Linked DNA regions of Homo sapiens. The protein of the gene in region 1 purifies or fractionates together with the protein of each later gene. This does not show direct contact. Each region holds a gene or a part of one and is shown in the gene's direction. Other genes may lie near its edges.

Region 1 (3,814 bases):
TTTCAAAAACTTTCAGCTGTTACTCCTTCAAATGTCTTCTGTCCACCTCATTTTCTGTCTGCCCTATTCAGATTACAGTGCATTGAAAGAATCCTTCATTGTTATTGATACTGGCCTTCAGAGTCTCCAATTCCGCCTGTTTCTTGAAGTCCCACATCAAACTGATGCTGTGTTTATTTTTTCTTATTTTTTTCTTTTTTCTTTTTTCTTTTTGAGACAGAGTCTCCCCGTCACCCAGGCTGGAGTGCAGTGTTGCAATCTCGGTGGCTCACTGTAACCTCTGCCTTCCGGGTTCAAGCGATTCTCCTGCCTCAGCCTCCCAAGTAGCTGGGATTACAGGCGCAGGCCACCACGCCCAGCTAATGTTTGTATTTTTAGGAGAGATGGGGTTTCACTGTGTTGGCCAGGCAGATCTTGAACTCCTGGCCTCAAGCAATCCGCCCACCTTGGCCTCCCAAAGTTCTGAGATTACAGGAGTGAGCCACCACGCCCGGCCCTCATCTTGTGTTTATGATTTTTGTTTCTTTTTTCTCTGTGTATTTCATCTTGAATACTTTCTATTGTGTCTTCAATTCACAGATGTTTTCTCTGTAATATTTAATCTGCCATTAATCCCAATCAGTGTATTTTTCATTGTACACATTGTAGTTTTCATCTCTAAAAGTACATTTTCAATATGTCTACTTAACTTTTTGAACATACAGAATAGTTATAACTGTTCCAGTGTCCTTATCTTTTATGTCAACCATGGGTATCAGTTTGGGGTTGATTTTGATTAGTCGCCTTATGATGAGTCATGTTTTCCTGCTTCTGTGCATGCCTGGTCCCCATCAAGCATTCAGCAGAATGCTGAGTTTCATATGTGTATAAGAAAATTACCTGAATCTGAGGAAAGATGTTAAGAAAAGATTAGGAGGAATACTGCCTAACATTCACATACGGCTGCAAATAGTGGCTGTTCCCACCAGCCAGGCTGAAAAGATTCATAATTCATGGAGCATTGAGAAGAGTACTCAGGAAGGTCTTGCCTCAGTAGTGAGGAATAACTAGCCCCAGACTGAACATTGTTCCAGATCCACCTAAAAAAATCATAAAAGCAACATCTGAAAGAATCAGACTATTTCAAAGTAACTAACTGCATCCCAGAACAAAGCTCAAGATTTGTAGGAATAAGAAATACCTAGAACCCAACAAGGTAAAATTAACTACATGTATCTCTATTTTTGAACTGCATTTCTTTAATTAACGTTGAACACCTTTCATGTGTTTATAAACCACTTTTATGTCTTGGTGTATGTGAACTACCTGTTTCTGTCCTTTACCCATTTCTTTTTTGGGTTGTGATCTTCTTTGTTAGGTATCTGGCTAATACAGTTGAAGAAGATGAAGAAGAAACCAAGTACGAAATTTTTCCATGGGCTTTAGGGAAAAACTGGAGAAAATTGTTCCCTAATTTCTTAAAGTTAAGGGACCAGCTCTGGGATAGAATTGACTATAGGGCTATTGTAAGCAGGCGATGTTGTGAGGAGGTAAGAATTTTAAAATGCTTTATATATGTAATCTTTGTTTTCTGTTTATCTTATTATCCTTGTTTTTTAATGTGCTTCTAATGTTTTGGTATTCTGGGTTTTTTTTTTTTTTCTAATATGTGGAGTAGACCATTGATCATTACCATGAATACAACTTGTGTATTACAATGTTGCTGTCTTATTATCACCATAACTAAAAACTGTCAACCGGGCAAGCCCTGCTCACGCCTGTAATCCCAGCACTTTGAGAGGCTGAGGCGGGTGGATCTCCTGAGGTCAGGAGTTTGAGACCAGCCTGGCCAACATGGTGAAACCCCATTTCTACTGAAAATACAAAAATTAGGCTGGGTGCGGTGGCTCACGCCTGTAATGCCAGCACTTTGGGAGGCCGAGGCGGGCAGATCACGAGGTCAGGAGATCAAGACCATCCTGGCCAACATGGTGAAACCCGTCTCTACTAAAAATACAAAAAAAATTAGCCGGGCGTGGTGGCAGGCGCCTGTAGTCCCAGCTACTTGGGAGGCTGAGGCAGGAGAATGGTGTGAACCCAGGAGGCGGAGCTTGCAGTGAGCAGAGATCGCGCCACTGCACTCCAGCCTGGGCGACAGAGCGAGACTCCATCTCAAAAAAAAAAAAAAAAGAAAAGAAAAGAAAAAGAAAAATACAAAAATTAACCAAATGTGGTGGCTGGTGCCTGTAATCCCAGCTACTTGGGAGGCTGAGGCAGGAGAATCACTTAAACCCAGGAGGCAGAGGTTGCGGTGAGCTGAGATGGTGCCACTGTACTCCAGCCTGGGCAACAGAGCGAAACTCCATCTCAAAAACAAACAAACAAATTGTCATTTCTATTTTTCAGAGCAGCCTACTTCTATAGTAAGTACTTTTTTTTTTTTTTTTTTTTTGAGACAGAGTCTTGCTCTGTCACCCAGGCTGGAGTGCAGTGGTGCGATCTCTGCTCACTACAAGCTCCGCCTCCCGGGTCCACGCCATTCTCTTGCCTCAGCCTCCCAATTAGCTGGGACTACAGGCGCCCGCCACCATGCCTGGCTAATGTTTTGTATTTTTAGTAGAGACGGGGTTTCGCCGTGTTAGCCAGGATAGTGTCAATCTCCTGACCTTGTGATCCGCCCGCCTCGGCCTCCCAAAGTGCTGGGAGTACAGGCGTGAGCCACCGTGCCCGGCTTATAGTAAGTACTTTTATTTTAGTGTATTTCTTCTGTCTAAAGGATCATCAATATATTGAAAAAGGGTGATATGAACAAACCAAAATATCTTATTTAGGATTACAATAACACTGGAGTTGAATAATAATTTCTGCTCAATAAAGTATGTGAAATTTCAGGTTCCCAAAATTGAAACACTATTTAACACATATATTAAATGGTATACAATTTAAATATTCTTTAAAATCATAACTCTTTTCACAAAGAATATATTGTTTCCTTAATGCCAAATCTTTTAGGATAAATCAGCAAGACACTAAAAATTTAATAATCAGTTATTTTACCAAATGTTCTGGTTTTTAATAAAGTCACTATTTCAAACCACAGAAAAATTCTAGAGTAGAAAATTAAATGGAAAGCAGTGGTCACTGTAAGCTCTAGTATTAGTTAAGAAAAATTTGATAAATGTTGATATACTTGCAAATCTTAAGATTTGATAGAATTAACTTATTCATTAATATACATTGATTTAGTGAGCACTTAGTAAATACATACCAGAAACTATATTATTTCTTTTAATTTAAAAAGGGCAGGCAGGCATGGTAGCTCACACCTGTAATCCCAGCACTTTTGGAGGCTAAGGTGGCCTGGATCACTTGAGTCCAAGAGTTCAAGACCATCCTGGGTAACATGGCAAAACACTGTCTCCACAAAAAATACAAAAAATTAGGTAGGCGTGGTGGTGCACACCTGTAGTCCCAGCTACTTGAGAGGCTGTGGTGTGAGAATCACCTGAGCCCAGAAGATTCAGGCTGCAGTGAGCCATGATTATGCCACTGCCCTCCAGCCTCAGCAACAGAGCAAGACCCTGTCCCAAAAAATAAAAATAAAAAAGGCTTGAAGCAAAAATAGCAGTATTACATCTATTAATTCTAGGCAGTAGGGATATGGATGTTTGTTATATTATTCCTAATGCTTTTTCATAATTTTAAAATTTAGCAACATTTAAAAAAATTAATGGAACTTGTTTTTCCTCTTCAAAAAGGTCACCTTATTTAAATGAATTTAATTCCATTATCCTTATCACAATACTTTGTTTCCTTCTGTAGCACTGAATAAAAT
Region 2 (3,914 bases), on another chromosome or scaffold:
CAGAGATCATGCCACTCCACTCCAGCCTGGGGAACAGTGAGACTGCCATCTCAAAAAAAAAAAAAAAAAAGAGCCAGTGCAAAGGTCCTGGGGTAGGGAGAAGCAAGGAGGCCAGTGTGGCTGGGGTGGAGTGAACAAAAGAGGGTGAGAGGAGGTGAGTGCAGAGATGATGGGGCAGGTTCACATAGGCCCTTGTGGGCCATGGCTGAGAGCCTTGGCTTCTACCTGGAGTGAGGTGCAGCAGGCAGACCCCTCTGAGGGAAAGAGGGCTCCAAAGTGACAGGTGTTCATGGGTCCCTGTGGCTGCATGTTGGAGGAGGACGGGGACAGCAGGTAAGAGGCTGCTGCCGTAGTGCTGGTGGCAGAAGAAGAAGGATGGACCAAGATGAGGGCCCAGGGTAGCGGTGGGGAGAGTGAGATCCTGGAAATCTTTTGGAGATGGAGCTACTGGACCTGTGCATTAGAAGGATGAGGTGTTCAAGGCTGTCACCCAGCCCCATCCAGGCTGGGATGATTTGAGGCAGAGCAGGCTACAGCTCCAGGTGGGAAGCCAAGCCATGACAATGGAGCCAGGACCCTGGGCTGGCTTCAGGAGGCCTCCGTGGGGAAGATACAGGTTCTGAGAGAGTTGGAGGGGTCAATCGGCAGATCTGTTTCCCAGACACTGCTACAGGCATGTAGCATGGTGATTAAGAATCAAAGCTGGGCATGGTGACTCGTGCCTGTAATCTCAGCGCTTTGGGTGGCAGGGGCAGGAGGATCCCTTGAGGTCAGGAGTTCAAGACCAGCCTGGGCAACATGGCAAAACCCTGTCTCAAAAAAAATTCTCCAGACATGGTGGCATGCACGTGTGGTCTCGGCTACTCGGGAGGTTGAGGTGGGAGGATGGCTTGAGCCCAGAAGTTTGACGCTGCAGTGAGCCAAGATCACAACACTGCACAGTAGCCTGGGTGACAGAGTGAGACCCTGTCTAGGAAATAATAAAAATAAAAATCAGACTTTACAGACTGTCTGGTTTCAAATGTTCGCTCCATCACCTACTCATGTACTTTTGGGCAAGCTGCTTAACCTCTGGGCCCCAGTGTGTGAGCCTCGCATTATGATGGTAAGGATGAGATGATCATGATAGGAGTCTCTAGGAAATCACCCCTCTGAGGCACCCATTATGAATGGTGAGCTTGGAGAAGGGGTCCGGTCTAGGGTCCTAGAGAGAGGGTCCCCTAGAGGGTCCCCATCGTCACCACGCCCCAAGACCACTGCCCTCACCGGCCTGGTTTGCAGGCGTGGGGGAAGGGGATGGAGAAGATCTGTGTCCGCTCTCTCAGCCCTCTCTTTTGCCGTTGTATCTGCTCATCTCGCTCCTTTCCGTAGCCATCTCTTCCTCTCCCAGTGCCCGGAGGCTCTCCCCTTTCAGTCGCCGCCTCTGGCCCCTCCATCAATGCGAGCGCCTCCCGGTCCCTCCTCCTGGTCCCTCCTCCCCCGCCGCCGGTAGGGGGGCAGCAGGCGCATGCGCAGTCGCGCCCCTCCCTCTCCGCCCCCACCCCCTGTCGGCGTCTGGGCCTCGTCCCCTTCTCTCTGTCTCCCTTGCCTCCCCCATCACGTCCCCTGACACCGACACCCCATTGCTCCCACAGTCTCCCCAGTCTCCACTTTGGTCCCCAGCGCTGTCTGCCCGAGGTAAGATGGGGAGGGGGCGGCCCGCGGAGAAGGGGAGGGGCGAAGCATCCTGAATCCCGAGATAAACAAACCCGGGGAGGGGGCAGCCGCGACTGAGGGGCCTGACGCGGGAGGAGAAGAATGGGGGGCTGGGCCTGGGGGAGGTGGCAGGCGCTGGGCGCACACACCGGGGCCCTCTATGGGTAACGGGGGTCCCTATGGTTGCCCAAGATCCAGTTGCGCGGAGGCCACCCGGGGCCCTGGAAGCTCCTAGGGGCTTGGACCCTGGAGCCTGCCGGGCACCCTCTCCAGCTGACCTCTGCCTCCAGGATTTGCCTGAAGGCTGCCCCCAACTCTGCACCCGCCCCCCGAGGGCCACCGAGGACCATGACTAAGACAGATCCTGCCCCGATGGCCCCGCCACCCCGAGGAGAGGAGGAAGAAGAGGAGGAGGAGGATGAACCCGTCCCCGAGGCCCCCAGCCCCACCCAGGAGCGCCGGCAGAAGCCTGTTGTGCACCCCTCGGCACCTGCCCCCCTCCCTAAGGACTACGGTAACCACTGTCCCCACCCTGGAATCTGGCCTGGAGCGTTGGGTGGCCGGGGAGGGTGGGCTGTGCTCTGCTGGTGGTGATGGTGGGAGAATTCTGGGGAATTTGAAGGTGGTCCAGAGGAATCTTGGCTGCAGAGCACCCCTCGTTAATTCATTCATTCACCCATTGGAGAATGGAATTGTAATACTCCTAGTCTTTGACTCATGACACATCATTCCATCATTTAGTCATTCAACAATCATTTTTTGAAAGCGGCTGTGGACCTGGCTTTATGCTAGGGGCTGGGGCCACAGCAGGGGGCAAGAGAGACCCAGTCTTTGCCCTGAGACAACTCACAGGCCTCAGTAACAGCCACACAAATAGGTATTAAACCATAATGTAATTTTTCACATTTAGGTTTATATGCAAGAAAGAAAAATATAATGTAATATAAATATGTAATTACAAGACATTATGAAAATTGTATTTACCATAAACAAGCTGCTGCAAGAGTTTTTTAAGACATTGTTTCCCTGAGGAGGTTACAGTTGAGAAGACTGGAGGGTGAGTTGGGGTTAACTAAGAGAAGGGTCAGGGGAAAGGGCTCCCAGGAGAGGTAACCGCTGGGTAAAGGATCTGAGGTAGGAGGGTATGGAGCTGAGAGGGCGGCCTCTTGGAGAAACTGAAAGTGTCTAATCATTGACCGAGCGATATTTATCGAGTGCTGCTACTCTGTGACAAGCCTTATGCTGGGTGCCGGAGATTTAATCCTAAGTGATCCAGGCATGATCCTCCCTTGCAGGAGAGAAGGAGAGACTAAACAAGTGAACAGATAAATAAATCAGAAATCAGATAAATTCAGATTGGAGCAAGTGCTATGAAAGAAAGAAAAGGTGGGCTGGGCATGGTGTCTCACGCCTGTAATCCCAGCACTTTGGGAGGCTGAGGCCAGCGGATCACCTGAGGTCAGGAGTTTGAGACCAGCCATGGCCAACATGGTGAAACCCCATCTCTACTAAAAATACAAAAATTGGCTGGGTATAGTGGCATATGTCTGTAATCCCAGCCACTCGGGAGGCTGAGGCAGTAGAATCGCTTGAACCTGGGAGGCAGAGGTTGCCCAAGATCGAGCCACTACACTCCAGCCTGAGTGACAGAGTAAGACTGTCTCAAAAAAAAAAAAAAAAAAGAAAAAAAAAAAAAAGAAAAGAAAAAAAGAAAAAAGAAAAAGAAATTAAAGGTGGAGATACGATAATGACTAGGGGGCAGCTACCTGCAGGGGTAGTCAGGGCTGCTCTTTCTGAGTAGGTAACATTTAGTTTGGGACCCAGAGCATGGGGAGGAATCAGCCATAAGAGAGCTGGAAAAAGAGTGTTCCAGGCAGACAGCAGCAAGTGCAAAGGCCCTGAGGCAGAATTGAACTTGGAACAGAAAGATCCTGGAGCTGCATTCAGGGAATGATCGAGGTTGAGGTGAGAGGTTGGCATAGGCCAGATCTGGAAGGGCCTTCAAGGCTACAGTGAGGACTTTGGTTATATTCTAAGTGGGACAGGGGAGAAGAGTGGCAAGGGGAGGGTGTTTAAGAGCAGAGGAGTGGCAGGTCTGATTTGTAGTTTGAAAGCTCCCTCTGGGTACTGGGTAGAAGGGGATGGAGTGCAGCCAGAGTTGGATGTAGGAGGGGAATTTGGAAGATATGCAGGCTGGGAATCCCCGGCAGCTGTGAGGT

The links.
Region 2: the proteins of SPDYA (region 1) and CLIP3 purify together in Homo sapiens (affinity purification with western blotting; one study listed by BioGRID). This does not show direct contact.

Annotation. Positions count from the first base shown.
Region 1 is NC_000002.12:28,827,791-28,831,604, forward strand, and holds part of SPDYA (speedy protein A), read left to right. Parts: intron 1-1,357; coding exon 1,358-1,529; intron 1,530-3,814. UniProt on the Homo sapiens protein: Regulates the G1/S phase transition of the cell cycle by binding and activating CDK1 and CDK2.
Region 2 is NC_000019.10:36,030,487-36,034,400, reverse strand, and holds the start of CLIP3 (CAP-Gly domain-containing linker protein 3), read left to right. Parts: upstream 1-1,527; 5' UTR 1,528-1,677; intron 1,678-1,765; exon of another isoform or gene 1,766-1,985; 5' UTR 1,986-2,043; coding exon 2,044-2,209; intron 2,210-3,914. UniProt on the Homo sapiens protein: Functions as a cytoplasmic linker protein. Involved in TGN-endosome dynamics. May modulate the cellular compartmentalization of AKT kinase family and promote its cell membrane localization, thereby playing a role in glucose transport in adipocytes.